4 separate regions of the Homo sapiens genome follow, and all the other regions are linked to region 1. Evidence: fine-mapped expression QTL. A gene starts in region 1. Each other region holds a variant in brackets. All regions are shown on one strand. Distances are between the middles of the regions.

What was found. PIP is the estimated chance that this variant, and not a neighbour inherited with it, causes the effect.
Region 2: its variant is the best candidate, but not a certain one, in a credible set for the expression of EIF4A3 in whole blood (TOPMed, PIP 0.83).
Region 3: its variant is the best candidate, but not a certain one, in a credible set for the expression of EIF4A3 in whole blood (INTERVAL, PIP 0.51).
Region 4: its variant is the best candidate, but not a certain one, in a credible set for the expression of EIF4A3 in fibroblasts (GTEx, PIP 0.85).

What each region holds. Positions count from the first base shown.
Region 1 is chr17:80,143,331-80,151,153 of GRCh38, forward strand. It overlaps EIF4A3 (eukaryotic translation initiation factor 4A3), which reads right to left and starts at 3,798. Exons shown (of 12, transcript NM_014740.4): 1 at 3,463-3,798; 2 at 842-914. The coding sequence starts at 3,631. RefSeq lists enhancers at 3,025-3,739, 3,740-4,452, 4,453-5,166, 5,167-5,879 and silencers at 3,377-3,426, 4,267-4,456.
Region 2 is chr17:80,051,412-80,059,234 of GRCh38, forward strand. It overlaps CCDC40 (coiled-coil domain 40 molecular ruler complex subunit), which reads left to right. Exons shown (of 20, transcript NM_017950.4): 8 at 7,083-7,240; 9 at 7,447-7,569. LOC124904074 (a long non-coding RNA gene) reads right to left here. Exons shown (of 2, transcript XR_007065931.1): 2 at 6,855-7,823. Among named protein-coding and RNA genes, the nearest start is that of CCDC40, 19 kb to the left of the region's middle. The variant G/T (reference allele first, on the strand shown) is at 3,788.
Region 3 is chr17:80,171,894-80,179,716 of GRCh38, forward strand. It overlaps CARD14 (caspase recruitment domain family member 14), which reads left to right. Exons shown (of 24, transcript NM_001366385.1): 2 at 1,013-1,335; 3 at 6,615-6,762; 4 at 7,211-7,408. Among named protein-coding and RNA genes, the nearest start is that of CARD14, 5.8 kb to the left of the region's middle. RefSeq lists enhancers at 6,038-6,538, 6,212-7,411. The variant A/T (reference allele first, on the strand shown) is at 3,919.
Region 4 is chr17:79,205,092-79,212,914 of GRCh38, forward strand. All of the region lies in intron 4 of RBFOX3 (RNA binding fox-1 homolog 3), which reads right to left. Among named protein-coding and RNA genes, the nearest start is that of ENGASE, 130 kb to the left of the region's middle. RefSeq lists an enhancer at 6,056-6,566. The variant A/G (reference allele first, on the strand shown) is at 2,916.

The DNA of each region.
Region 1 (7,823 bases):
GCTGTTCCAGCAAATTAATCCAACCTAAAGAGGGGATCCTGGGAACCCAACTTGAAGCTGCTTGGTCAGAAGTTCTAGAGATCCGAACTTATAACTGGTGTCTGAAAAGAGGGTAGTCATGGGGACTGAGCCGTCAACCTGCAGGATATGGCCTATCTCCAGGCAGGTGGTGTGAGTTGAACTGGAGGACACCCAGCTGGAAAAGCCCCACACCTCTGCTCACAGAAGTCTTCTTCTGTGCTGATGACTGTTGTGGTGGTGTGAGAGCAGAGGAAAAGCACAGTCTGTTTTTCCGAAATTGTGTTATATACAATTCCACATGCCAGCAAACCACTAAGCAAAGCTGGCTAAGAAAATGAAAGCCTTGGCCGGGCGCAGTAACTCATGCCTGAAATCCCAGCACTTTAGGAGGCCAAGGAGGGTGGATCACCTGAGGTCAGGAGTTTGAGACCAGCCTGACCAACATGGTGAAACCCCCGTCTCTACTAAAAATATGAAAATTAGTCGGGCATGGTGGTGCATGCCTGTAATCCCAGCTACTTGGGAGGGTGAGGCAGGAGAATAGCTTGAAACTGAGAGGCAAAGGTTGCAGTGAGCCGAGATGGCACCACTGCACTCCAGCCTGGGCAACAGAGCGAGACTCCATCTCAAAAAGAAAATGAAAGCTTTCCACAGTAGAGAACACAAATTTAAAAAAGTATTAAACCCTGTGGCTAAAGTCAGGGAAAGTGTTGGAACTGAGCGTGTACAAGCTGAGGGAAACAGTCATCCCAGAGCATCTAACTGCACTGCGCTGCCCAAATTTACATCCAGCCCTGCGCCGCACCCCAGGACAACTTACTGTGCGATGACATCTCTCCCTTTGATGATCTGCTTGATTGCTCGTTGCTGGATTGCTGATGGTTTTTCAAAACCTGCAAATAAAAACAAAAAATTAGCCCTCACCACAATGACAGCATAGAAACCCTGTACTGTGAGCTCCTCAGGGGCAGACATGGTTTGTTTTTTGAACCTGTCCTCCAGCCTAACCCAGTGTTCAACATAGCAAGCTCTCAAAACCCAGGGGCTCAATGAATTGGGCTGAGTGATTTCTACACTAACGTGGGATATTATTTGTAAAGACCAATCTCTATTTTTAAAAAACCACCAAATTGTAGAATATAGACAACAGTTTTGTTTAAAAAAAAAAAAAAATCTGGGTGTGCAGCATCTGGAAGTGTAAGTGCCAAAATGTTCCTGGCAGTTACTGCAGTAGAGGGGTGGAAAGAAACTTACTTTTTACTCTAATTACTCCCTTAGGTTTGACTGGATTACAAACAACCTATACTACTTTTTAAATTAAAAAAAAAAACAACAAAAAAACAGGAAAGTCACTCTAGCCATTGTTCTCTCCTACTAGCTAGCATTAAGTCTGTGTGTTGCTGACAGGTCTACAACTCTGTTTAACCTGCGTGGGTCACGCTGCAGGGTGTCCTATGTTGTTCTGTCTGGATGCAGCTCACTAACTACAACACCATCACACCATCTCTCTTGCAAAGCAACTACTACACCAAAGGGTGAGGCTATTTTGAAGAAGAACCACGTGTTTTTCAAGTAAATAAAATTTTATGTACAAAAACTCTATTTCAATTATTTTTTGGTAGTCTCTTAAATGTAGCTCTGCTCAGTTCTGGGGCATAGCGAAAAATAAGAAACAAAAGAAAATGTAGCACAATTTCCCATCTTAACACAAATGCAAATATAGCAGATGATTTAAACTCTTCATGAAGAGCAAGCACATAGATGGGAAACTAACAACAGTGTCTTAGGGCAGGGACTGCCTGAGTGCCAGGAAACCAGGTGGGGCTGTCAGCCTCACTGTGAGGCTGCCTGAGATGCTTTTTCACCACGCATCCTCAGCAACTTCGCTTCACTTTGTCCAAACTGTTGTGGCATCAAGAACTACAGGATACGGCCAGGTGGGGTGGCTCACACCTGTAATGCCATCACTTTGGGAGGCTGAGGCTGGTGGATCACTGAGGTCAGGAGTTCAAGACCAGCCTGGGCAACATGGCAAAATCCCCTCCCTACTAAAAATACAAAAATTAGTAGGACGTGGTGGCCCACACCTATAATCCCAGCTACTCGGGAGGCTGAGGCAAAGGAATCGCTTGAGCCCCAGAAGTGGAAGTTGCAATAAGCTGAGATCATGCCACTACACTCCAGCCTTGGTGACAAGAGCAGGACTGTCAGAAGGAAAAGGAAGAAAGAAAAGGAAGAGAACTACAGGATAAAAAATGTCCCTGTCCCAAGCATTAAACACAGGCCATTTATCCCAGATGCTGGTCATTCCCATCTATGTGCCCAACCCAACCTCTTCTCCAGGCTCTCCCTCAACTTCCTCACATCTTTCAAACATACCAAGAGACAGCTCCTGATTCTGACTCTCTGGAGTGCTGCCTACCTAGCCAAATGTTTGCAGCATCAACCACCGGTTACTCAAAACACTCCAACTCTCCTCCTTCTGTCACTCACGTTCAATCCATCAGCCAATGCTGTCAGCTCCCTGGTACTCCATCTCCAAGGCAGCACAATCCTCTCTTCCCTGAACTGCAGCAAAAGCTCCCAACTCTCTTGTTTCCTCTCCTGCCTTGCCTCGCCTCACCTCAAATCTACAGACACCCAGAAGAATCTTTAAAACTGTAAATGTGATCGTGTCACATAGCTACTTAAAACCTTCCACTGGCTTCCCACTAGATTTCTAAATGAAATTCAAATTATTCGTCACCCTACACGTCTTTGCTAGATCTGCCCCGACTAGCTCTCCAAAATCCCACCACAGGGGACTTCTTTCAGTTCCTGGAATGCAGCTGGCTAAGGGCTGCAAGGCCCTGGCACCAGCTGTTCCTTCTGCCCCAACTGCTCTTCCCTCTTCTCATAACAGTCTCCTTCATCCAGAACTCTGCTCAAATGGCACCCCCTCCTGCGAACCCCCTTACCTCTCTGCTTTACTAATTCTCTCCTCCTTCCCAGTCCCACTCTATTCAATTACCCCGCTTCAGGTTCTTCAGGTTGCCTGGGCAACCTGACAGTATGCTTTCCCCCCAAACGAAATTCAAAACCCGTAAAGGCGCAAACCCTTCCGGTTTACCGCCAAAACCCCAGTACCTAGAAAAGCTAATAGGTAGAAATCAGTTATCTGCTGAATGAAGGACGCTGAGGTGCCTCGAAGCGGCTGCAGCCCCCGACAGACCCAGCGCCGAGCTCTGCACGGGGGACACACACCGAAAGCGCCGACACAGCCAGGCGTGAGGGCGAGGACGGGGGTGGGGGTGGGGGTCGGACGTCACTGGCCCCCGAGCCTCGACCCTGACCACGACCTCCGGAGCGCAGGGCCGGCCCGGGAGTCACCAGTCTGGCCCTCAGCCCCCGGCTCGCCCCCGACTCGCCCCCGGCTGGCCCCCGCGGCCCGCGCCCGCTCACCGTAAGCGTAGATGCCCCGCAGCAGGTCCTCCCGCAGGCCCATGGTGTCGAACGTGGGGGTCACATCCACCTCCTCGCTGGTCTCGAATTCCACTTTAGTCATGTCTTCCTCTTTGAGCAGCCGCTTTCGCGCCGAGCCCGAGGTCGCCATCGTGGCCGTGGTCGCCATGATTCAGAGTCCGCGGAAGAGCACAGCGCGCGCCGCTGCCGACCTCGCTGCCGCTGCCGACCTCGCTGTGCCGCTGCCGACCTCGCTGCCGCTGCCGACCTCGCTGTGCCGCTGCCGACCTCGCTGTGCCGCTGCCGACCTCGCTGTGCCGCTGCCGACCTCGCTGTGCCGCTGCCGAGAACAGACGCCTTAAGTATGCGAAAGCGAGAGACGTGCGTGCGTACGTGCGTACGTGCGTACGCGCGACGCGGCCACGCCTCTGGGGGACGGGGCACTCTTCGTCACGTGAAAGGGAACTGGGCGTTTGCCGCAGGGAAAAGTAAGGTGTTTCTGCTCTCGCGCCATATGCAGTTCCCGCGGGATCTCGTTGAGGGCGGGGCACCCAGTTCCTTACGAAAGGGATGGAGGGGGTGGTACTTCTAAAGTTGGCGGTGTTTCGTACCGGCCGCGGGATTTCGCGGACTGGGGCGCTGAGGTTCTTTGAGCGGCGTGTGGACCTGAATTCCCTGGAAACAGGCTGGGGCCGCGAGGGGCCTCCGCTCCGGGCGGGGTCCCCAGATAGCCCCGCCTCGAATAAAAATGACGAGCACGGGTCCTCTCTCGGGCCCGCAGTGGGTGGACTGCGTCGCAGACCCGTAGTGGAGGCGCCCAGCTCGCCGGGGAGATTCGAGTGGAAACCCTCACGGCCGCCGGTGGTGGGCCCCGGCGCGGCGCTGGGCTCCGGCGGGTCTGCGCTGGGGAGGGCCAGGGCCCCTGAAGCCGGCGTCCCTCTTAGGGGACGCGCCTGGGTGTGTCTTCACCGTTTGCCTGGTGAGTTGGAGACAGGGTCTCGCTCCGTCGCCCAGGCTGGAGTGCAGTGGTAGGATCAGGGTTCATTGTAGCCTCCGCCTCAGCCTCTGGAGTAGCTGGGACCTCAGGCGCGCGCCACCACGCCCGGCTAATTTTTTAAATTTTTTTGTAGAGACGGGGTTGGGGGAGGCGGGGGTTAGGGTTGTCCTGGCTGGTCTTGAACTGCGGGGCCTCAGGTGATCCGCCTGCCTTGGCCTCCCAAAGTGCTGGGATTACAGGCATGAGCCACTGTGCCCGGCAAGCAGCTGTTATAAATAAAATACATGCTGAGCCTGCAATTTGCTCTTAATGAAGGCCACTTGTCAGTAGACGGTGCTGCTAATGCGTGTCCTGCAGCAAAGATAACCCAGACGGGATCATTTTTTAATTGCCCAGCAGAACTTTAACCAGTTGTGCATCTTAACCTGCTTTTTGTTTGTTCGTTTGTTTGTTTTGAGACAGTCTGGCCCTGTCGCCCAGGCTGGAGTGCCATGGCGCGATCTCGGTTCACTGCAGCCTCCACCTCCCGAGCACAGGCGATCCTCCCGCCTCAGCCTCCAGAGCACCTGGGACCACAGGTGTCCACGCGCAGCCACTAACCGCTTTCTTATCTGACACTTTAAGTGCTTCTTCGTACCCAGCTCCTCTAACGCCTTTTGAAGCAGCTCCATCATCTTTGAAGGGCAGTTCATGCTGTTGAGAATCATGTTTTTAACTTTGGGAAAATTGTATTTCCACGAGCGCCAGCTCTGTCCTTTTTTTTTTTTTTTTTTTTTTTTTTTTTTGACGGAGTCTTGCTCGGTTCGCCCAGGCTGGAGTGCAGTGTCGCGATCTCAGCTCACTGCAAGTTCTGTCGCCCAGGTTCACGCCATTCTCCTGCCTCAGCCTCCCAAATAGCTGGGACTACAGACACGCGCCACCACGCCCAGCTAATTTTCTGTATTTTTAGTATAGACCGGGTTTCACCATGTTGGCCAGGATGGTCTTGATCTCTTGACCTCATGATCCGCCCACCTCGGCTTCCCAAAGTGCTAGGATTACAGGCGTGAGCCACCGCGCCCCGCTATTTTGTGTGTGTGTGTGTGTGTGTGTGTGTGTGTGTGTGACAGAGTCTCGCTCTGTTCCCCAGGCTGGAGTGCAGTGGCGCAATCTTGGCTCACTGCAACCTCTGCCTCCCGGTTCAAGCGACTCCCCTTCCTCACCCTCCTGAGTAGCTAGGATTACAGGCATGCACCACCACGCCCGGCTAATTTTTGTATTTTTAGTAGAGATGGGGTTTCCCCGTGTTGGTCAGGCTGGTCTTGAACTCCTGACCTCATGATCTGCCCGCTTCAGCCTCCTAAAATGCTGGGATTACAGGCATGAGCCCGGTCCTGTCCTTTCTTATGGTCACAAATCTGGCTTGCATCGCTGGGCACATCTTTAATCCACAGCTTCTTTCTAGGAGTGCTTGAAAAGCTCTCCTTTTATGAAGGTTAATTTTAGTTAAAACCAGAGCATCCTGGCCAGGCCTGGTGGCTCACGCCTGTAATCCCAGCACTTTGGGAGGCCGAGGCAGACGGATCATGAGTGTAGGAGTTCGAGAACAGCCTGGCCAAAATGGTGAAACCCCATCTCTACTAAAAAAAAAATACAAAAATTAGCTGGCCGTGGTGACGGGTGTCTGTAGTCCCAGCTACTCTGGAGGCTGAGGCAGGAGAATCTCCTGAACCCCGGAGGTGGAGGTTGCAGTGAACCGAGATTGCGCCACTGCACTCCAGCCTGGGCGACAGAGACTCCATCTCAAAAATAAACAGAAAACCAGAGCATCCTTTTATCAAGAAGTCGGTGGATTGCAGTATTTCAAGGGTGAACAAGTAAATGCAGCCTTCTCCAAGAGTGAATCTCATTCTGGCACCAGAATTTATCCATGACAGATAATTGACCTTCTGATAAACATTCCTTGTAAGGATGCTGGTGTTACCCAAAATATTAAATATTTATAAAGCTGAATAAAATGTAAGTTCTGATACCTTCCTCACTCTACAAAGGATCATTTCGTGCCTCACACTGTTTGCCAGGCCGTGCTGTAGCGCTTTGTCGTAAAATACACACAGATTTCAATGACTTAACGTAGGAGAAGAATGTAAAATACCTTGTTGACTAAAGAAAAACAGTTAAGCTTTTAAAGAATTAAAGTTAGTTTTATTCAGAAGCCTTACTGAGGACCGTACATCCTGGCCCCAGCCCAGGAGCTCAAGCGATCCTCCTACCTCAGCCTCTCAAAGTGCTGGAATCACAGGTGTGAGCTACCAGGCCTCTCACCTTGTTCAAAGTTAAAATCTAATCCACAAACTGCTTAGATTTGTTTTCCTTCATATTTTTATGACTAGATGATCTAACATTTTACACCATTTTTCTGGAAATGTTGTTTATGCCAGGTGTCTGAACACACATCTTAAAGGGCTCTAACTTTTCTGGGGAGCAGTAGCTTTTTAGCCCAGAGTCTATGACAATGTGACAATGATGAGAGCTGCTGAGGTTTGCTGCAGTCTCTGGGTGAACGATGCTTTCTAGGGAAACAATGGGGCATAAAACAGACATGGGCTCTCCTGCCTTGAGATTAATCGCGTGAGATGGACCCCTCCCCAACACACAAACATTGTGGGACATGAGGTGCTGGAGACGGGGTTGCTCACCCAGAGCTTAATGGGTCTGTCCACCTTTGTGACCAAGAGGCCTCTTTTCTTAGAGGCTGAGGGGCCCTGGGATGATGAGGGTAAATCCACTTTTTAGAGCAGGAATCTCCAAACCCCAGGCCACGGACCAGTATCAGCACCTGTCTGTGGCCTGTTAGGAACCAGGCGGTGCAGCAGGAGGCAAGCAAGGGAGCTAAACTGAGCTCTGCCTGCTGTCAGCAGCAGCACTGGACTCAGAGGAGTGTGAACCCTGTTGTGAACTGCACATGCGAGGGATCTAGGTTGTGCACTCCTCATGAGAATCTAATGCCTGATGATGGGAGGTGGAATAGTTTCATCCCGAAACCACTACCCCATCCATCTCTGGAAGAATTTTTTTCCACCACCTGTGGAAAAGTTGTTGACGTGGCTAGACTTTGTGTCTTCACCCACATCTCATCTTGAATTGTAATCCCATAATCCCTATAATCCCCACGTGTCGAGGGAGAAGCCAGGTGGAGTAATTGAATCACGGGGATGAGTCCCCCATGCTGTTGTCTTGATAGTTGTCTCGAGATCTGATGGTTTTATAAGGGGCTCTTCCCCCTTTGCTTGGCACTTTTCCCTTCCTGCCATCTTGTGAAGAAGGTGCCTTGCTTCCCCTTCACCTCCTGCCATGATTGTAAGTTTCCTGAGGCCTCCCAAGC
Region 2 (7,823 bases), 92 kb before region 1:
GAGGTCAGGAGATCGAGACCATCCCGGCTAAAACGGTGAAACCCCGTCTCTACTAAAAATACAAAAAATTAGCCGGGCGTAGTGGCGGGCGCCTGTAGTCCCAGCTACTTGGGAGGCTGAGGCAGGAGAATGGCGTGAACCTGGGAGTCGGAGCTTGCAGTGAGCCGAGATCCCGCCACTGCACTCCAGCCTGGGCGACAGAGCGAGACTCCGTCTCAAAAAAAAAAAAAAAAAAAAAAAAAAGAAAAAAGAACCTCTCTCCAGTTAGCATCAAATGAACAGAAAACAGTAAAAGGAAAGAAAGTGACATCCACACTGAACTGAAAGAGCCACATCCTCCAGAAGTAACCAAATTTACACCCACCTGAAGGAGGACGCGTGCCCCTAACTGCTCCCCACACCTGCAGTGAGGCTGGAGCCGTGGAGCTGGTGTGGAGCGCCCTCCGGCTCCCCTCTGCTAGGGCTTAAAGAGTGGGTGGGATTCCAAAAAGATCCAAACACTCTGGTGGACTCTGCTTCCTGGAGATTAGGAGAGGGCCAGAGCCGAGGCTCTTCAACCCAGCAAGGCCTGCGTCAAACAGCACCGTCTCTGCCTTCTCAGAACTGAAGAATTTGGGCAACGGTCCCGGCCCTGACCGGGGGGCAGCCACCACTGCACAGTCCCTTAGGTGAGACGTGGGTCCTGGCCCCTGGAGAAAGCCCACGGTCACCTGCCTCATCTGGGAGGGAGACTGTATTAGGGTTGTCTAGAGGGACAGAACTAACAGGATAGATATATAGAGAAAGGAGAGTTTATTCAGTATTGACACAGGATCACAAGGTCCCACAATAGGCCGTCTGCAGGCTGAGGAGCAAGGAGAGCCGGTCTGAGTTCCAAAAATGAAGAACCTGGAGTCCAGTGTTCAAGGGCAGGAAGCATCCAGCACAGGAGAAAGATGTAGGCTGGGAGGCTACACCAGTCTCTCTTTTCACATTTTTCTGCCTGCTTACACTCTAGCCGCACTGTCAGCTGATGAGATGGTGCCCACCCAGATTGGGGGTGGGTCTGCCTTTTCCCAGGCCACTGACTCAAATGTTAATCTCCTTTGGCAACACCCTCACAGACACACCCAGGATCAATACTTTGTATCCTTCAATCCAATCAAGTTGACACTCAGTATTAACCATCACCGACACTAAACCTTCACACCAAAATGAGTTACCAACCCGAGATCCCCAGACCTGAGAGGAGACTGAGCCGGACAGACAGGCAAACCCAGCCCTGATTCTAAAAACAGAGCATGCGGAGGCACCAACTGGTAGTCTCATGAGATTTTAGAGGACGTTGTATCCGTAAAGAGAACAAAGTGTTAGGAAGAGGGGTACGTGAAATTTAAAAATATAATCATCATCCCAGAGTGTGCAGAGGCGCCAACTGGTAGTCTCATGAGATTTTAGAGGACATTGCATCCATAAAGAGAACAAAGTGTTAGGAAAAGGGGTACGTGAAATTTAAAAATATAATCATCATCCCCCCAAAAGGCACTAACTAGACAAATGAATGCAGTTGAAAACTGAATTTCTTAACTAAAAAGCCAGTTCGAGGAACCTTCCCTGGAAATAGAGCAAAACCCCAAATGATTGATATCTTGAGGAGGAGGTAAAAGACATGGACGACAGATTAGGGAAATCGAATCAGTGTCCGAAAGGGAGATTTCAGGAGATGAGAGGCAATAGCCAATGTCCAGGAGAACAGATGCGTGAGTTCAGGAAAGACGAATCTGCAGATAGAAAGACTCGTGACGGGCCATGCAGCTGAAAGAGAAAATAAACCTCCGCAGACATAGCTGGTGGGATTTCCAAATACCACGGCAAAAGAAAAAATGCTGCAGGCTTCCAGGCGGGAAAACCCAGATGGCCTCTTGAGGCCGGGCCTGGGCTACGCTTTCATCAAGGCCTCCATCAGCTGCGCCTTGGAGGAACCAGGGAGAGCTCAAAACCACCAGGACCTATCCCAGCCCAGATTTCAGATTGGTTTGTTCTGGGAAGGACCAGGCATTGTTTGTTTCTGGCTTTCTTTTTGACCCTTAAGCTTCCAGATGATGCTAACTTGCAGCCAGGGCTGAGAATCACAGATCTTAAATTTAAATAGCAGGATGTCAATGCATACAGAATTCAGAATTCTCTTTTTTGTGTTTTTTGTTTGTTTGTTTGTTTGTTGAGATGGAGTCTCTCTCTGTCGCCCAGGCTGGAGTGCAGTGGCGTGATCTCAGCTCACTGCAACCTCCACCTCCCGGGTTCAAGCGATTCTCCTGCTTCAGCCTCCCAAGTAGCTGGGACTACAGGGGCCCGCCACCATGCCTGGCTAATTTTTGTATTTTTGTAGATAACGGGGTTTCACCATGTTGGTCAGGCTGGTCTTGAACCCCTGACCTCGTGATCCGCCCACCTTGGCCTCCCAATGCATACAGAATTCTAAGGGAGAAGGATGGTTAGCATTTGACCTACATGTCAGTTAGACTCTGGAAATTAACAACAACGGGAAGTCCACGCATGAAGACTTCTGGCTGCAGCCAAATCTGCTCAGACAAAACCCATGACAGAGTTTATTTACATTTCCACAAACAAGCCTGAAAACAGACATTCTATTCGAGAAGCTAAAAAGAGGGAAATAAACTGAAAGAAGCAGAAAAATAAACCAATAAAGATCAAAAGCAGAAGCTGATGAAATAAATAAAAAATGAATTGACTTGATAAATAAACTGCTTTTTTTTTAAATGACCAATAAACCTTACACACTGCTGGCTTATCTGGCAATAAAAAGGAGATCATGCAAGTAACAGTGTTGGGAATGAGGACAACTTGGGGGAGGGTTTTTTTTGTTTTGTTTTTTGTTTTTAATTGCAAGAAAGCTATGCATTGTACTGGTTTCATCATGCAAGAAATTGAAAATGTCAAAAATCTGTTTTCCCTAAATGCACCAGTATTGGAAGATGTTATGGAAGGCTTCTAGTAACCTTTCAAGGAACAAACACTTCCTGTGTTATCAAAGCTCCAGGGCATGGAAGATTCCGGAAACTCCCCACAGGCTGGTCCTGCAATGCTTAGTGAAAGGCTGGCTGCAAACGCTGACAGCATACAAGCAGGAAACTGTAAAGCGGCCCCACATGTGAGGAGTGAAAATCCTGAACAAAATGTTAGCAAAAATAAGTAGGATTTACTTCCAGAATTCACACAGGAATAATTCACAATTAGGAAATCTACTAATTTTGTGCATTATATTTATAAATTAAAGAATGGAGGCCGGATGTGGTGGCTCACGCCTGTAATCCCAGCACTTTGGGAGGCCGAGGCGGGCAGATTACCTGAGGTCAGGAGTTCGAGACCAGCCTGGCCAACGTGGTGAAACCCTGTTTCTACTAAAAGTACAAAAAATTAGCCAGGTGTGGTGGCAGGCACCTGTAATCCCAGCTACTCAGGAGGTTGAGACAGGAGAATTGCTTGAGCCCAGGAGACAGAGGTTGCAGTGAGCCGAGACTGTGCCACTGCACTCCATCCTGGCCAACAGAGTGAGACACTGTCTCAAAAAAAAAAAATAAATAAATCAAATAAAACAAAATACAAGGATAAAAAAAAAAGGCTTCCTGGGTGGGTGCCAAATGGGTATTTAATAAAACTCATCATCCATCCCAAAGTAGGATAGAAGGAGAGTTCTAAGTATTTATCAGAAACTAACAAGAAAATGTTACCCAGTGGAAAGACTAGACTTAAAATCAGGAATGAGATGAGGAGGCCTGCTAGCATAGCA[G/T]TTACCCCAGACTGTTTTGGAGGCTCCAGCAACGCAAAGAAAACAAGAGAAAGAAATGAGATATGGATCTGGGAATGAAATACTGAAATTCTCAACCTCTACTAATGAAAAATAAAAGCCAATAGAAACAGTAAGAAATCAATAAAGTAGCTGGATACCAGCTCTGTAGTTTTCTTCTACACCAGTAATATAGTTAGGAATTACAATTTTTAAAAAAGCTCATTCATAATAGCTATAACAACTTTTAAATAAGTCCAGGAAGAAATCCAACAAGGAATGATGAGCCTGTCTGAAAAAAAACAATAAATGTTATGAAAGGTCATAAAACAGATTTAAATAAATGGAGTGCCCACGTTACCAGCTGGGAAGACGCATGATATAAAAATGCCATTTCCCTCCAAATTAGCAATAAAACCATTGCAATTCCCGTTACCCTCCGTGGTGAGATGTTTTGGGTGAACTTAAATTTATTCAACATAATTATTTACTTATTTTGGAAAAGTAATGATTCAAAATGCAAGAGCTCTACAACTAAGAGGAAGTTTTCGTCTCTTTTCCCCTTCCCCCACCCAGCCACCAGGGCCCTCCGCAGAGGCAACGTAGATTCTTGTGGATTCTTTTTGTTTTTGTTTTCTTCGAGACAGCGAGACGCATCTTGCTCTGTTTCCCAGGCTGGAATGCAATGGCAGAGTAGCCTCGAACTCCCAGCCTTAAGTGATCCTCACACCTCAGCTTCCCAAGTAGCTGGGACTACACACACACCACCAGGCCTGGCTAATTTTCATATATATATATATATATATATATATATATATATATTTTTTTTTTTTTTTGGTAGAAACAGGGTCTTACTGTGTTGCCCAGGCTGGTCTCCAATTCCTGGGCTCAAGTGATCCTCTTGCTTCGGCCTCCCAAAGTCCTGGGATTACAGGCATAAGCCACTGTGTTCAGCCCTTGTGGAGTCTTTTGGAGATTTTTTGCATATCTAAGCAAAGTCACAAGGGTGTGTGTGTATGTGTATCTCTCTCTCTCTCTTTAACTTAAATGGCTGCATATTATACCCACTGCTCGGTTCCTCGCTTGCTGTCCCTTAGCAACACGTGCTGCGGATATTCCACCTCAAAACAAAAAGCACCTCGGGCCAGGTGCGGAGGCTCACGCCTGTAGTGTTGACACTTTGGGAGGCTGAGGCTGGCAGATCGTTTGAGCTCAGGAGTTCAAGACCAGCCTGGGCAATGCGGCAAAACCCCATCTCTACAAAAAATACAAAAATGAGAAATTGGCCGGGCATGGTGGCATGTGCCTGGAGTCCCAGCTACTTGGGGGGCTGAGGTGAACCCAGGAGGTTGAAGCTGCGGTGAGCTATGATTGTGCGACTGCACTCCAGCCTGGGTGACAAAGTGACACCCTGTCTCAGAAAACAACAAGAACAACAACACTTTATTCTCAACAAATTGATTTTAAAGTTCATTTAGAAGACTAAATGCACAAAAATATCCAAGACAATTTTGAAAAGGAAGGATAATGAAAGAAATATTTAAGAATAATAACAAGTCCTTAGCCAGGCCTGGTGGCTCACGCCTGTAATCCCAGCACTTTGGGAGGCCGAGGCAAGCGGATCACAAGGTCAGGAGATCGAGACCATCCTGGCTAACATGGTGAAACCCCATCTCTACTAAAAAAAAAAATACAATTACTCGGGCGTGGTGGCGGGCACCTGTGGTCCCAGCTACTCAGGAGACTGAGGCAGAAGAATGGCGTGAACCCGGGACGCAGAGCTTGCAGTGAGCCGAGATCACCACTGCACTCCAGCCTGGGCGACAGAGTGAGACTCTGTCTCAAAAAAAAAAAAAAGAAGAATAGCAAGTCCTCAAAGAGAACTTAGAGGAAATTACTTTGGAATTTAGCTACTGCAAGCTATATTAATGCACAGGTTGCTTTTTTTTTGAGACAGAGTCTCACTTTGTCACCCAGGCTGTAGTGCAGTGGCATGATCCTCCCACCTCAGCCTCCTGAGTAGTTGGGATTACGGACGTGCACCAACACATCCTGTTAATTTTTGTATTTTGAGTAGAGACAGGGTTTCACCATGTTGGCTAGACTGGTCTTGAACTCCTGGCCTCAAGTGATCCGCCCACCTCGGCCTCTCAAAGTGCTGGGGTTACAGGCGTGAGCCACCACACCCAGCCAAAATGGCTTTGCAAGTTTAAGCTGTATCCTTCGAGCACACCTGGCTCCAGGATGATATGCGTCCAGCAGCCTTTTGGCCTGTAATTCAGTTTTCTGTTTGGATCCAGCCACTGAAAGGGAGTGCTCTGTGCAGTGAGCAAGCAAGTACTGACCCACGTGTAGCTCCCTCAATAAATTTGCACTCCAGCTTTAGAAATCCATCTCATGGCCGGGCGCGGTGGCTCATGCCTGTAATCCCAGCACTTTGGGAGGCCAAGGTGGGTGGATCAGGAGGTTAGGAGATGGAGATTATCCTGGCTAACATGGTGAAACCCCGTCTCTACTAAAAATACAAAAAATTAGCCGGGCGTGGTGGCGGGCGCCTGTAGTCCCAGCTACTCGGGAGGCTGAGGCAGGAGAATGGCGTGAACCCTGGGGGCGGAGCTTGCAGTGAGTCGAGATCGCGCCACTGCACTCCAGCCTGGGCGACAGAGCGAGATTTCGTCTCAAAAAAAAAAAAAGAAATCCATCTCATGCAAGTTTTGTTAAAGGAATCAGTTCCTCGGGCCTTGGCCTCCTCTGAGAGCACTGACATAAATCTGTCACTTAACTTGGGACAGGATGGAAGCTGCTGCCTCTTCTAGCCTCGTCCTCTCTGGCCTGCACTGCTGTGCAGCGGTGTCAGTGCAGGGGCATCTGTGGAGCTCAGCCTGCCCTGGATGTTCTCGTCTCCTCCCAGGGGACTTAAGACTCCACCTAAGGTTGCCAGCCTTTCAGTGGTAAGACATCTATGCAATCAACCCGAAGCCTTACCACCTGGCACTACTTCAGTGTATCCTTAGACTACCAGGAGGATCTCTGAGACTTGGTGGGGAATGGAACAGCTTGCTGCAATTTGTGGATGTAGATTCCGTATATTTTTGTCTCTTCCAAGAGACTGTAAACTCTTTGCTGACAAAGTCTGTGTCTTGATAGTTTAAAAGCAGTTTCCCAGTCTTACCCAAAAATGGCAGGAAGGGTGCCCAGAACGGCTGTTCCCTGCTTCCTCCTGGGTCTCTGCATGGGGGACGCTGGGACAGCCTCCCCACTCACTCTCTCTCTCTTTCTCCCCCGCCGCGCCCCGCAGTGGCGGCTCTGCAGACTGAGATGGAGAACTTGGCCCTGCATCTCTTCTACATGCAGAACATCGACCAGGACATGCGTGACGACATCCGCGTGATGACACAAGTGGTAAAGAAGGCCGAGACGGAGAGGATCCGGGCAGAAATCGAGAAGAAAAAGCAGGTATTCTGCAAACTCGACACATGTTTAATGATCACCAGACCGTGGAGCTTCAAAAAGGGGCTCAGCTTTGCCTCCTGCGTGAAGGCTTCCGGCCGGAGGGGTGGCGGCCGGCCTGGGTGGCGTCAACTTGTATCAAGGGTTGGTGGAGAACAGGCCCTCAGCCACGGGCACCTCCTGACGGGGCTGCTTCTCATCCTGTTTCCCAGGACCTGTATGTGGACCAGCTCACCACTCGAGCCCAGCAACTGGAAGAAGACATTGCCCTGTTTGAGGCTCAGTACTTGGCCCAAGCTGAGGACACCCGGATTTTAAGGAAAGCAGTGAGTGAGGTAAAAGCAGTCCCCGCAGCTCTCAGTGTTCGACCCTCCAGTGAGTGTCCACGCACAGGGTGCTGGTGGGTCTACTAGACTGCACCTGCCCGTCTGCTGGATGAGTGACTGCAGCCAGCTTACATCTGCAAACATCGGGCCCTCCCCATGGTGGGGCCACAGTAGATACTGACAGGTGGACAGCCCGGATTCCTATTCCTTCCCTGGCTAGTGGGTGACAGAAGGCCTCGCAGGGTTCAGGTACTCTAGTCGCT
Region 3 (7,823 bases), 29 kb after region 1:
ATCCAACTAGAGGACCCTCCCAGACCCGGTCGTTGCCACCTGGACCCAGCCCCAGGAAGGCACCCGAGAAACCTGTAGTCCTCGGCTGACCACCAGTCCTGGTCCTCAGGATATCCGCAGAGACCTGGCTGTCCAGAACTCCCAGGGTTTCAGCTGCAAGCTGGAGATGTGGCCCCTTGGCAACTCGATATAGTAAGATACTGGAGAGCGTGCCAGAGTGTCATTTGCTAGAAACAAACATTATACTGCGGTAAGCCCTAGTTTTTCAGTCATTGGCTCTTTGGCACCAACTTAATCACAAGGCCATTGGCCCCAAAGAAAGGCCTTGTAGGCGACTGTTTAGGGACACCTGTATTTTCCATCTGCCTTGGAACCTCTAGGCTCAGGCCGAATGCCTATTGAAGTAGATGTTTCGTAAGAGATTTGGGGGCAAATACTGGGATTTTATAAAGATGCTGCACTCTCCTTCACTAAGTAGAAAGCTGAGAAATCCTGCCCTGAGGGGAAGAAACAGTTGTCTTCCTGACTGATGCATCCTAGACCAGCCAAGACTTCCTCCCGCTTTCCTTCTTCTAGAACTTTCCCCACTTCAGCCAGTATCTGTCATCCCCTGGGCTCCCACCCTCTCCATGTGCCGCTTTCATCGGGGCTGAGGGGAGCAGGAGAGGAGACGTTTCTGCTGGTGTCCCCGCTGTAGCTGGAGGAGCTCGGCGTCGGCGTGCCTTCGCCTCCCCTTGCCATGATGCCCCCTAAACCGAGTCTGTATTGAGAGAGAAAGGTGGCACCGTTGATCATTACTCCAGGACAAGAGTCATAAAAGGACTGTCCCAGACAACCTAGGACCCCAGTGTTCTGTGGCGAACACTTCTAGGATGAGGCCCATCTCCTTCTCTGTTTCATCAATTGGATTAATTTTATTGTTTTCTAAAATAATGACTATGGTTTTTATTGAACCCATACTTGCTTATTCTAAACATTCTTTTTTTTTTTTTTTTTTTTTTTTTTGAGGTAGAGTTTCACTCTGGCTCCTAGGCTGGAATGCAGTGGCACCATCTCAGCTCTCTGCAACCTCCACTTCCCAGGTTCAAGCGATTCTCCTGCCTCACCCTCCTGAGTAGCTGGGACTACAGGCGAGCACCACCACAGCCGGCTAATTTTTCTATTTCTAGTAGAAATGGGGTTTCACCATGTTGGCAGGCTGGTCTCGAACTCTGACCTCAAGTGATCTGCCTGCCTCAGCCTCTGAAAGTGCTGGATTGCAGGCGTGAGCCACCGCACCAGGCCTAAACAGATTTCTTTACAATCTACCACCATGAACAGCAAGCATTAGCATTGGTGAGGAGTGTTCCAGAATCCCTCTGCTCTCTGCCTCTCCATTTCTCTCCCCCTCTCTTTCTCTCTCATGCACACACACACACACACACACACACACGCGCGCGCGCGCGCGCGGAATGACAGGACAGACTGATCGGCAGATTGGATGAATGGATGGATGGGCACATAGATTGAGGGACTCCCAGAGATAAACTAACACCATTTTATAAAAATGGTATCATATTCTACATGATTGAAATGTAAACTTTTAATTTTACTTAAATTTTAGTTCAGCTCAGATGTTGCTGGCAAAAGTTTTTTTTTATTATTTTTATTTTTTATGTACTGCTCCTTGAGGAGCTGGGCTAACTCATAGGCAGTGCATCCAGATTCGGCATTTTTTTTTTTTTAGATGGAGTCTCGCACTGTCACCCTGGCTGGAGTGCAATGGCACAATCTCGGCTCACTGCAACCTCTGCCTCCCAGGTTCAAGTGATTCTCCTGCCTCAGCTTCCCAAGTAGCTGGGATTACAGGCACACACCACCACACCTGCCTAATTTTTTGTATTTTAGTACAGATGGGGTTTCACTATGTTGGCCAGACTGGTCTCGAACTCCTGACCTTATGATCTGCCCACCTCGGCCTCCCAAAGTGCTGGGATTACAGGCGTGAACCATCGCGCCCAGCCAAAAAATATTTTTTAATTGTTAAAAATAATAATGGAATGCCAAATGTAGTAGAACAGTTTCACAATGACAAGAACTATTAGTTCCTAAAAAATCCCCAAGATTCAGATAAGAGATTACAAAAACCTTGATAAATTAGTGACATTATGTAAAATCAACAGTGCTGGGTTTGGTGGCTCAGACCTGTAATCATTGCACTTAGGGAGGCAGAGGCGGGAGGAGTGCTTGAGCCCAGGAGTTTGAGAGCCTGGCCAACATAGCAAGACCCCATTCTCCACAAAACGGAAAATACAATAAAATAAAATCAGCGTTTTGTTTTATTTTATTAATTTATTTGAGATGGAGTCTCGGTCTGTCTCCCTGGCTGGAGTGCAGTGGCGTAATCTCAGCTCACTGCAGCCTCTGCCTCCCGGGTTTAAGCGATTCTCCTGCCTCAGCCTCCCAAGTAGTTGGGATTACAGGCATGTACCACCACACCCAGCTAATATTTGTATTTTTAGTAGAGACAGGGTTTTGCCATGTTGGCCAGACTGGTCTGGAACTCCTGACCTCAGGCGACCTGCCCGTCTCTGCCTCCCAAAGTGCTGGGATTACAGGCGTGAGCCACGTCGCCTGGACTTCCTTTATTTTAGATAGCACAGGGTCATGGAAGATAAAGTGATGCCTTCCTTCCCCTACCCCCTACCCCGATTTCTACTGCTTGCATTATTTCTTAGGGTAAAGAATCTTCTTATTTGGCTGGAAGACTCTATTCCCACCGTAGTTTAGTCCTGGATGTGTGATTAAAGAAATCCAGTGGTTGCCCTGCGCTGAGAAGGACAGCCGGGCCTGGGTTCTCTCCTGGCTCAGTACAGCCCCCTCCCCACTCCTGCTGAGGACTCCCAGGGAAGCTGGAGGCAGCTCTGGGGCGTTTTCTCTGACTTCCCTAGACTTCTCTTCAGCTGCCCAAACAGTAGAGGGATGCTGAAGCCCTCTCTTCCCGCAGTCTGTCCCTAAGGGTTGCGCTGGCACCTGTGCCCCCAGTGCCCCTTGGCAGCACTCCTTTGGTTTCAGGGCTTGTCTGCCATTTTTCTTTTTTCTTTCTTTCTTTTTTTTTTTTAAGACAGGGTCTCAGTCTGTCATCCAGGCTGGAGTGCAGTGATGCAATCTCATTTCACTGCAACCTCTGCCTCCCGGGCTCAAGTGATCCTTCCACCTCAGCCTCCCAAGTAGCTTGGGGACCACAGGCTCACGCTACCATGCCCGGCTAATTTTTGTATTTTTTGTAGAGACAGGGTTTCGCCATGTCACCCAGGCTGGTCTTGAACTCCTGGGCTCAAGCGATCTGCCTGCCTCAGCCTCCCAAAGTTCTGGGATTGCAGGTGTGAGCCACCATGCCCGGCCTGCTATTTTTCAGTTTGTGGCAGAAAAGTTGTTTTCCTTTCCTCATTTTGTGGTTGCTGCTTTATTCACTTATTTATTTTTTTAACTTTTTAAAACGCAACATTTGGTTCATTTCACCAGGAGCTGGGGAGGGAGGTACAGGAGGCTGCCCTGATCCTTTGTTGGGTTTGATCTGGAGACTTTGACGTGACAGAGCGACTGCGCCCACTGGTTGTCCTCTAAGAAGGCGTGAGGGGAAGCCCAGACGCCTCTGCAGGAGCCAGAGACATTCCTAGGGGGTCACAGGGTCAGCTGAGGTGAACAGGGATTCTGGAATGAGGAAGCCAAGGGGATGGAAGGGAGGAGGCTGGCAGGGAAACGCCCAGAGCACGTGCTCCTGCCCGACACCTCCAGGCAGAGAACAGGAGCTGGCAAGAGAGGAACCCCGCTTGTGGTGGGGACGCTGAACAGGCAGGGCCTGGCTGGGATGGGGGCCCAGCCTAGGCTGAAAACGAAGAGAAAGGAAAGTGGGTGCCGGTGTCCCACGCACTGTGG[A/T]CCCCCAGCCCTGGCCCTGGGGTGGCAGGGGCAGAACCGGGCACTGCAGGGACCTCCTCAGCCCACCCTCCTCCTGCTTCCTGGCAGGGATGAGAGAGGGAAGCAGGAGGCAGGGTGGGATTGCCAGCTGCTCTCGGATCGTTTTTTTTTTTTTTTTTTTTTTTTTTTTTTTTTTTTTTTTAAAAACGGGATCGTGCTATGTTGCTAGGCTAGTCTTGAACTCCTGGGCTCAAGCGATCCTCCTGCCTCTGCCTTCCAAATTACAGGCATGAGCCACTGCACCAAGCCTGGATCTTTTTTTTTTTTTTTAAACAACTTTGTTGAAATATAACTCACGGCCAAACACAGTGGCTCACACCTATAATCCTAGCACTTTCGGAGGCTGAGGGGGGAGGATCACTTGAGCCTAGGAGTTTGAGACCAGCCCAGGCAACATAGTGAGACCCCCTTCTTTACAAAAAACAACAACAACAAAAAAAATGAGCCTGGCATGGGGGCACATATCTGTATTCCCAGATACTCCGGAGGCTAAGGTAGAGGATCACTTAAGCCCAGAAGACGGATGTTGCCGTGAGCTGAGATTGCACCATTGCACTCCAGCCTGAGCAACAGAGCAAGACCTTGTCTCAAAAAAAAAAAAAAAAAAAAAGGAAGAGCTATAACCCATACGGCACACAATTCACCCGTTTAAGATGCTTCTAGTGTATTCACAGATGTGTGCAATCGCCGCCACAGTTAACTTTAGGACATTCCATCATCTGTAAAGGAAACATCCCCTACCTTTAGCTACCATCCTGACATCCTGATAGACAGGGGGCCTGAAGACCCCTCGGTGATGCAGGGCAGGGCTGGAGTGGGGGCCCTGGGCTGACTTTATTGCTCGCTATTGCTGCCTTGAAATTCTGAATACGTTTTTAAAACAAACGCACCATCCTTTCATTTTGCCCTGAGCTCCACAGACGATATAGCTGGTCCTGAAGTGGGGCAGAGGATCATTCTGACTTGGAGTCAGACTCTAGCGACGCAGGCTTCTACTGGGTGGAGGCCCAGGAGCTCAGGAGCCTTCTGTGGGAGTGTGCCCATTGGCAGCGCATCCCTGGAGATGGACGGACAATTTCCACATCGCCTTTGCCCCTGTGCACGCTCCCTCTGGCTGCCGTCATAAATTACCACAAACTGGGTGGCTTAAAACAACAGAAATGTATTTGCTCATGGTTCTGGAGGCCAGAAGTCCACACTCCAGGGGTGAGCAGGGCCGCACCCCCATGAAGGCTCCAGGGAGGGTCTGCTTCATGCCTTCTCTTGAGTTTCTAGTGTTGCCACCGACCCTTGGCGTGTCACTCCAGTCTCGGCCTCTGCCAACATGGGGTGATCATGGGGTGTCTAGGCCTAGGGCCCTTCTCCTCCTCTTCTTCTTCTTCTTTCTTTTTTTTTTAAGACAGGGTCTTGCTCTGTCGTCCAGGCTGGAGTGGAGTGGCACTACCTCAGCTCTGCAACCTACACCTCCCAGGCTCAAGCGATCCTCCCACCTCAGCCTCCTAAGTAGCTGCGACTACAGGTGTGCACCACAACACCTGGCTAATTAAAAAAAAAATTTTTTTAGGCCAGGTGCAGTGGTTCATGCCTGTAATCCCAGCACTTTGGGAGGCCGAGGCAGGCGGATCACTTGAGGTCAGGAGATCGAGACCAGCCTGGCCAACATGGTGAAACCTTGTCTCTACTAAAAATAAAGAATTAGCTGGGCATGGTGGCATGCACCTGTGATCCCAGATACTCAGAAGGCTGAGGCAGGAGAATTGCTTGAACCCGGGAGACAAAGGTTGCAGTGAGCCAAGATTGTGCCATTGCACTGCAGCCTGGGAGACGAGCAAGACTCTGTCTCAAAAAAAAAAAATTTTTTTTTAGCAGATTTTAGCAGAGACAAGGTCTCACTGTGTTGCCCAGGCTGGTCTCAAACTCCTGAGCTCAAGCAATCTGCCCGCCTTGGCCTTTCAAAGTGTGGGATTACAGGCATGAGCCACCACACCCAGCCCTTCTCCTCTTGTTATAAGGGCACCCATCCCTGGACTAGGGCCCACCCTAATGACCTCAACTTGATTACGTTGGCAGAGACTTATTCCCAAATGAGGTCCTACTTACAGGTACTGGGGGTCAAGACTTCAGCATTCTTTTGCGGGGGGCCACAATCAGTGACACCCTGACTCGCAAGCCTCAATCACCTGTTCCAGTGAGAAACAGGACTGAGATCAGAAGGAATGAGGCAGAGCTGCCCTCGATTGGTTCTCCTCTCCTCCTCACCTGCCCACCCCGGCCTCTGCGCCCGTCACTGTCCTCTCCAGCTGTTCTTCCTTCCGGGCAAGGAGACTCAGCAGAAGGGTATGAGTGGCCTGGCCCTGTGGGGAGCCGCAGACAGGCCTGTGGGTGCTTTGGATAACTACTGCGCCTGTCAACTCTCCTTGGTAGTCTAGGGTTCAAAGCCCAGGTCCATTCTAGAAGTCTGCTTCCAAGTGCTAAGGAAGCTTCAATAGTTACTGGGAAAACCACAGGGGTCAAAGGTCCGTCGAGTTATTTCCCGGATCCGAGTCTGACGTCTTTTCCCCGCCGCTTGCGGTGGTTGTGACCGAACCTTGAGTTTTGGAACAGGTCACATGGCTTTGAAATCACGGTCAATTCACCTGGTGCTGCTTTGACTTCAGGCTCTTCCTTCTGCCCAGCTCCGTCCCACCCAGCAGCCCGCAGAGAAAGGAGGCAGCTGGCACCACACTGGGCTTTGGAGACACTGCGGGGACTGTGGACCCCACCCTGCTGCACGGAGCTCCTGCAAAAGCAAACCTGAGAACCTTGGTGAGTACTTCCGGAGACCCGGCTCCTGGGACGGCTTCTGGCGCTGCTCCTGCACACACGACTCTCCAACGATCATTTTCCATGTTTTATTTTTATCTTTTAATTTTTGAGATGGAGTCTCACTCTGTCACCCAGGCTGGAGTGCAATGATGCAATCTCAGCTTACTGCAACCTCTGCCTCCCAGGTTCAAGTGATTGTCCTGCCTCAGCTTCTCAAGTAGCTGGGACTACAGGCACCCGTCACCATGACTGGCTAATTTTTGTATTTTCAATAGAGACGGGTTTCCACCATGTTGGTCAGGCTAGTCTCAAACTCCTGACCTCAGGTGATCTGCCCGCCTTGGCCTCCCAAAGTGCTGGGATTACAGGCATGAGCCACTGGCCCCGGCCCATTTTCCATTTTTCAGATGACAGGTGTTGATTTGCTCTGATTTTCAAGTATTTTTAGCATACAGATCCCTGCAAGAGGCATCTGTCTCCAGTGGTCCAGCCTCTCCTTCCAAATGAAAAGAATCAAGTCACAGGAATTCATGGGTCTGTAAGGAATCGCTCCCATCTGTGCCCAGGAGATTAACAAAGGCGGTGGCTGCAGCTCTGTGAGCAGTGGAGAAAAATTAGGCACAACCTGATATCCTCCCACAGGAGCGTAAGTCCACTGTGGTTATTCATATCATTGAATCCAGTGCACAGTTTAAAGGACCATGCATGTATCAAGCTGCATGTATCAGTATGAGAAACCTCAGAAGCCGTACAGCCTTGCACAGAACGATAGTTTCTGTGAAGTTCCAGCTAACACTGAAGGCACTGTTGATGTAAAGCTGCTGTCTGCACGAAGTATCATGCAAAGATGCTATGTACTGTTTATACACACTTCCATTTGTAGGAAATGATTTTTAAAATATCATTTTTAGGCTGGACTGTAATCCCAGCACTTTCAGAGGCTGAGGTAGACAGATCACCTGAGCCCAGAAGTTCGAGACCAGCCTGAGCAACATACGGAGATTCCATCTCTACAAAAATTAAAAAAGAAGCCAGGCATGGTGGCGCATGCCTGCGGTCTC
Region 4 (7,823 bases), 940 kb before region 1:
GAAGACCAGGTAGGGCTTAGGAATGCACTGCAATATTTATAATGATAGCATCCCCATCCTTCCCCAGATGGACCTGTGGATACTTGCCAGAGAACCTGTGTCCTGGGGAAGGGGACTAGCAGAAGTTTTGCAGGCAGGAGGATACATGGTTAGAGCAGACACTGATACCTGTGAAATGAAAACACCATCATTTCTGCCAGTTAGAGTGGGGGTCCACAGAAACCCAGGGATATATGACATCCTGAACCACATCCATCTTACAGCAGGTCTGTCAGGCTCATGGACCCATCCTGTGGTTTGTTCTCTGGTCTCTGAGTCTGCATTTGGATGGCTACACTTAGCATCTAGCATAACCTGAATATGAGTTCCCTGACGTAGGAGTGCCAAATGGGAGCCTATAAAACCTCCCTAACCCCCAGCTAAGACAGGAAATCAGAAAAAACAGTACACCCCAGGGAACTTGCAAAAATTATATCCACTATCAAATACTTAAAGGAAGCAAGGATGAGGTCCCCATCCTATCCTTGTTCAATTCACCTACAAAACAGAACCCTACAAAAACCAGATGAATCAGAGTGGGTGATGGTGGATTACTGGAAACTTCACCAAGCAGCAGCCTCCAATTATTCACAGCAGTGTTGTATTTACTGGAATAGCTCGACAGAGCCTCTATTACTTGGTATATGGTGATTGATATGGAAAATGTATTTTCCAGTCCATGTCCATAAAGAGTCAAAAGCAGTTGGCTTTTTTTTTTTTTTTCCTTAAAGTAGTTTGCTTTTACATAGGAAGGACAGCAATACACATTTCCTATCTTGCTGCAAGGCTGCAATCATTCTCTTGCTCTTTTCCACAATATAGTCTGCAGGGACCTTGGCCGTTGTGACATTCCAGAGAATATGCTCATCCGATACACTGAGGAAATCAGGCTCATTGAGCTAGACGGGCAGGAAGGAGCAAGTCCAGCTAATGCCTGAGGAAGACCTGTGTGTCAGAGGGTGCGAGGTAAAGCCTAGCAAGAAGGTCTACAGCTTGCCACGTCAATGAAATATTTAGAGTCTGGGGCTTTCTGGAACATCCCCTTGAAGATCATGTAAAAGCAAATCATTGCACTCCTTCCACCAAGAGAGGGGCACAGAACTTGGTGGCCTCTTTGGATGCTGGAGGCAGCAAATATTCCCCTTGGGAATACAGCTCTAGCCTAACACTTCCAAAGGCTATCCGTTTTGAGTAGGTCCCAGAGCAAACGAGGGCTCTATAGCAGGTCCAAGATGCAGTGACATCATCCCAGTGGTGCCCGACGTACACTGTGGCGGATAAGGCTGTGTGAGGAGTCTCCGGCAAGTCTCATTGAGAGACACAGCACTGACTCCTCAAGATGGTTGAGGCTGGCCGTCATCTTGAAGACTCTGTGATGAGCTGGACATAGTACAGGGGTGCAAGAAGTGGGCGGGAGCGGATGCCTCCTGTGTCCACCTTGTCTCCTCTAAGCCCTGCTTTTCACTCCAGACTTTGCTGCAGCCATCAGCTGTCCACAGATGTAGCCTGAAGACAACTTGACTTAGTGAGTCTCTCCAGGCCACCACTGCTCAGCTGTCCCCTGGCAGGAACAAACCTGAATGTGCCGGCCAGTTAACACCCCATGGTGCACCCTGCGCTGTGGGCTATGGCAGCTGGTGGATGCAACCTTCCCTCTTCTATCCCTCAGGTGGGCAGCTCAGAAAGTGCCTTCTACACCACTCCTCAGAGAAGTCCTAACTGGATTGAGTCTTGGAACCACTCCCCATCTCATTGACTCAATAGTACACCTGGAATGGCTTTCTTCCTCCCCATTTCACTTTTCCCAGCCCCCTTTCCTTTGGCTCATTTCCCAAAATAAACCTCCTGCATGCAAGCCCTTGTCTCAAACTCTGCTTTGGGGAGAAAACTCTAGACTAAGACAGACAAGATTTGAAATCTGAAGTTTCCCATGCAAAGAAAAAAGCCATGCAAGTTTTCTCTGTTTGCCTGTCTCCCCAGTAGAAGAGTTTCCAAATGCTTACTGGGTTAAAAGTGCCTCTGCCTAATATTATAATTAGTAGGGTTGTTTTACGATTCAGAAAACAGAGGAAAGTATGAAGAAGATTATCACCCATGGTCTAATGAGCTTATTGGGCTTAATGGTTCATATTTAACAGGAATGAAACGCTCCTTTCCCATGTCACCAGGACAGGTACAGAGTTGAAACTTCCTCTCCATGTGCCCAAACTCACTGCTGGACCTGAGTGAGGCCCCCAGTGTCCCTCGATTAGCCACCTGCTCAGTGGCCTGAGGCCAGAGTCAGGGAGCTACGGTCAGAGGTGCCTGGATGCTGCTCCACCCCTAGCGAGGCCTGCACTGTTCCCAGCGTGGCACCAGGGCCCCTTGCAAGCTTTACCAAGAAGCCTCTCGGGTTATTCCCTGTGGCCAGGCTCGGGCTGGGTCCCTGGGCCTATGGGCTGTGGGGTCAGCCCACTGGGCAAAGGGATCTGGGATTTCTTGGGACAAGCTCCAGGAACAGGAAACTTTGGAACACGCCCTCCTCTCGCGGGCCTAAGCTCCCTTCCCTTTTCTAGGGGGGTGTCTGCAAGTCTCTGTGCTGCCCTCTGGGGAGGACTGGCCTTCAGGAACTTTCCCGTCGGCCACTTGGAGACTGGGGTGCACACCAGGGCACCTCCAGGCAGCGCCTCCTGCACGCTCACACCTCCTTTCCCTCCCCTTCTCTCTTCTTGCTCATCCTCAGCTCTTTTGCGGCCAGCCAGTCTTGCCCCCAAAAGGAGGAATGGTTATTTCTTTAGCTATACAATTAATCAATGTTTTGGCCCTTTCTTTTAAAACAGTATGGGCCACAAGTCCGGGACCGCGGGAGCCTCGGCAAGCCTCGGCTGGGCTGGGTG[A/G]AAGGTGGCCCTTCTCTGGCCAGCTCTTGGTGTCTCCCTCCCTTTGTTCTCCCCTCACGCCCTTCTTCCTGCGTCTGGAGGGAAAGGCTTATTTACAGTCACTGCAGAAACACTCCCTCTCCCCTCTGTTGGTAGAACCACAACCAAGCGGATACAGCAGAGCTGAGATGCTGCTGGCAGTGCGGGTCTCCAGCTGTCAGCCCCGAGCTGTGGCTCTCAAGACAGGATTCAGGCACAGAACCAAGACTCTTGGTCCTTCCTGCCCAGCCAGGCTGTCTCTGTCACACACACACCCGGCCAGGCCATCCCAGCCAATAGCCAAAGGCCTCGACCGCCTGGAAACCAAAGGGGCTCCCCTCGGCCCTCCAAGCAGTCCGGGGAAGGGGTGGGGCTGGGAGTCAGTCGGGAAGGTTGGGTCAAGGAAGAGAAAAGAGGCACTTGCCTTCTGCTGGGGTCTCCAACCCCTGGCTGACTTCTCTCTTGGGATGACTTCCAGCTTCTGGCTGTTTCCCCAGGTGGTATCTTTGAAAACACGGTCAGCTGTTCATCTTCTCATGGAAGTGTGGGTGCCAGGCAAGTGGCATTGAGCAACCTTGAGTGAAAGATGCCCACCTGGCTGGTGGAGGCCCTTCCCGGGCAGAGGCAGAGGCAGAGGCAGAGGCAGAGGGGAGGCTCTTGGTGGAGAGATGTTGTCTGAAGCCAGAATTATTCTGACCGTGTCCCCACGCTTGCTCCTAGGGCCCTGCTCCTGCCTTAAGGGGCCCCACAGGACCTCACTCCCATCTCCACCCTGGCTGCTCTTTCTCTCTTTCTTTTTTTTTTTGTTTGAGACGGAGTCTCGCTCCGTCGCCCAGGCTGGAGTGCAGTGATGTGATCTCGGCTCACTGCAAGCTCTGCCTCCCGGGTTCACGCCGTTCTCCTGCCTCAGCCTCCCAAGTAGCTGGGACTACAGGCACCCGCCACCACGCCCGGCTAATTTTTTGTACTTTTTTTTAGTAGAGACAGGGTTTCACCGTGTTAGCCAGGATGGTCTCGATCTCCTGACCTTGTGATCCGCCTGCCTCGGCCTCCCAAAGTGCTGGGATTACAGGCGTGAGCCACCACGCCCGGCCCCTGGCTGCTCTTTCTGTACGTGCCCATTCCTCCCCTCTCCCACCAGGCCACCCATGTGAGTTGTGGTTGGTGATGTGGCTGGGCCAGCCCTCCTGCACAAGGCCTTCTGTGATGTGCCCCCATCCCAGGAGCAGGCCAGTGCCTCCTTCTGGGTGCCCACATTGTTTGAACCCCATCACCATGTTTGCACCTGCTCTGTAACTATTAATGCACAGCTCCGGGACCTCCCAGGGGGCAGGGACAAGGCTTCATCCCTGTTGTGTCTCCAGGGCTGAGTGTGGCAGGCAGGACAGAGGCACTCGGGACACACCCATTGAACCAAACGGAACTCCCACTTCCAAAGCACCATGGAACAAAATGTGGCCGGCACCGCAGGTGTGGCCTCTCATTCCCCATACTGGGGACTTGACTTTCTCCTCCTCTAGGCAGTGAGCACCTCTGCAGAGAGATGAACCACCTCGGTACCCCAGTGTCCAGCATAGGTGTCTGCACATAGTACCTGTCCCATAAAAATAAGCAGGACGAGGTTGCCTGCAGAGACACAGCAAGAGGTGGGGTGCATGGCTCACATGTGCTATGAAAGGACGGCGCTGGCCGGGCGTGGTGGCTCATGTCTGTAATCCCAGCACTTTGGGAGGCGGAGGCGGGTGGATCACGAGGTCAGGGGATCGAGACCATCCTGGCTAACATGGTGAAACCCCGTCTCTACTAAACAAAAACACAAAAAATTAGCCGGGCGTGGTGGTGGCCGCCTGTAGTCCCAGCTACTTGGGAGGCTGAGGCAGGAGAATGGCGTGAACCTGGGAGGCGGAGCTTGCAGTGAGCCGAGATCACGCCACTGCACTCTAGCCTGGGCGACAGAGCAAGACTCCATCTCAAAAAAAAAAAAAAAAGAAAGAAAAGAAAGGACAGCGTTTCTGTGTGCGCACAGAGGCGCCTTAGCAAATCCTGCAAAAACAACAGACACACAGGCTCAGCTTCTGCCCTGGCTAGATAACCTCTGGAGCCCGAGGGAAGAGTGTACCTGCCTGGGGGGAGGGATATGGAGTGGGGAGTGCAGGGGGCCACCCGGTTAGGGCAATGGGCAGGTGCCTGGTCAAGGAGGGAGGCTATTCTTTTGTGAACTTTTTTTATTTCTTCAGTGTTTTTTCAGAGTTGGACCCCCGGCGTCTTCACGCTAATGCCACCGTCTTCATTTCTCTCTGGCTGCATCTGCTCTTCATCTCCATGCGGTTATAGTTTTCACCTCGCTGTAATCAGGGGTCCTGCTTTTTCACTTGATGATATACAGAGACGGCTTCCCTTGTACGGGGACTTCCTACCCATCAGGTCTCACGGCCGCACAATATCCCATCGAGTGCCCGCCGCATACTTCACGTAACTATCCCTTTACGGCGGACAGGTAAGATGATGCCAGAGGGGTTTCTTCTGCTGCTATAAATATCTTGGCACGTCCAGCTTTTTTCATCTTTTGAATTATTTCTCAGGGATATGGTCCCGGGGCGGGATTATGGAATTGAAGGGTCGGGTGGCTCTTGTCCTGTTCTGCCAGTTGCCCTTCAAGAGATGGGGCTGGGGTAGGTGATGTGGAGGAGTGCCCTACCACCCTCCATCTGCACGTCTGGTGCCTGGTGGGGATGTGCAGCATGGGCAGAGGGTGCAGCCCGCAGCAGGAGCTCCCAAACACAATGAGGGTGCCGAGTTTTGGAGTTTCCAACACCTTCTCCAGCGTCCGGTGATCTCAGTCCTGGTCTCCTCTAGGCAGCGAGCAGTGAGCACCTCTGCAGAGGGATGGGCCACCTCGGTATCCCCAGTGTCCTGCACAGGTGTCCGCATATAGTTCTTGTCCCATACAAATAAACAGGAGGAGGTTGCCTGCAGAGACACAGCAAGAGGTGGGGTGCGTGACTCACATGTGCTATGGTGTGCGGCTTGGGCAGAGGGTGCAACCCACAGCAGGAGCTCCAAAACACCATGAGGGTGCCGAGTTTTGGAGGTTCCAACACCTTCTCCAGCGTCCGGCGGTCTCAGTCCTGGGCCACGGAGCAGACGGTGGGAACACAGGCTTCCTGGCAGGCAGCACGGCCCGATGCGGGCTGGTCTGGTGGGTGGCTGTGGCTTCCGTCGTGGGGAGGCACAAGCCCTGAATCAGGATGCTCATTTTGGCACACGGCAGCCTGTGCCTCTGACCCTGCCAACGCCAGCCTCCGCCACCTCCTGCCCGCTCAGCCTCCGGAACCATGAGCAGGACGTTCCAGATCCGAGCTGCTGACAAGCCACAGCAGGCAGGAAGATAAATGGAAGGGTCCTTAATCCCAACTTCTTTCCATAATTAAGTTTTGAGATCATCGTATGCTGAACCCAGGTTTCAGCAGAGCTGCTGGGACTGGCTCCAGGTGGACGCTGGCGTGCAGTTAACAGGGATAGGGGCCGTGTCGCTGCTGCCAGCAGCCTGGGAGAGCCCTGCTACTCATCCCCTGCGGATGCCTCCTTCCCACGCTCAGACTCCGGGGGGCTGGACAGACAGGGAGGCAGCTGCAGATACCCCAAGGTCAGAGTCCCAGGCTCCGGCAGGGCTGTACCCCGGTCCATCTCCAGCCCTGACTCCTCCAATCCTAATATGACTTCTCACTGCTGGTTGGGGCATTTCTAGATCCCTTTACCAGAACCACTGGTAACTCTCCTCAAAGCAACCACAACGCTTTGCCCTGGTCCTCCCTTAAGCCCTGGACTTTCGGTTAGGCCCTCTCTTAGCACCTCTCCTGGTCACCTGGGTTGTGCCAGGCTGACTGCTGGGCACGGGGATACGTGGGGGGGAACAAGACAGATGAGACCCCTGCCCACAAGGAACTCCCCCAGCGGGCCCAGGAGGTTGTGGCCAGGCCAAGCTCCCGAAAGCTCTGGTCTCCTGGGGTCTTGGAAGACAACCAGCCAGCACCCTCCCTCCTGGAGTCCCGCTGCATTGGGGAAATTGACCAGCGCCCAAAGACGGGCCCACCTGGGCATCTTCGACCATGCCAGGGACAAGACAGCAGAAAAATGGCCCCAGGGAGAAGGGCTGGGGTCTCTGGACTCTTCTCCAGGAAAACCTTCAAACTCTAGACACCCTTGGCCACCCGCTGCCCTGGGTTCTTCCAGGCTGGGGCTGGGGCTGGGGCAGGGCTGCTCCGCCTGGGCTCCTACGTGACTCCTTTCTCCTCCTCCCCTCCCCATTTGCCTGGGAGGAAGGAAGGGGCCGCACTTGCTCCAGCCTCTCTGGCTGCTCCTTCCTTCCCTCCTGCAGCCGGGCTCCTGGCGCTGCCCGTTCCCAATTTCTCCTTCCTGTAGGACTGCTGCAGGGGCCACCCTGTTTTTAGGGGGTCGGGTCTCACCCTGGGCCCCCCAGTCCGCAACTCCTGACTCCTTATTCTGCACTTCCTTCCTTGTTCTTCATAAAGAGTAGATTTCAGAGCAACTTAACTTCTTTCACAAGCAAATTCCCAGAGCCTGGTTCTTCCCCAGCCCTGGAGGGCCTCCCCGTAATTGCAGGCCTTACTCTCTCTGCTCCTTTTCAATCACAAATGTCGCTGACAGTCCCCACACTACCACTTGTTTCCCCTTTTGTCCTAGAATGAGAAAAGCAGGCTGTGGGGAGGGGCGGGGAATGGGAGAAAGTGCCTGGCTCTAAACAGAAGCCAGGCCCATTCTCTCCCTTAGGGGACCCAGACAACTTCCTGGGGCCTGGAAACAGATGTCACCTCAGCTACAGTGTTTGAGTTGGAGTCTGGCTCTGTTGCCCAGGCTGGAGTGCAGTGG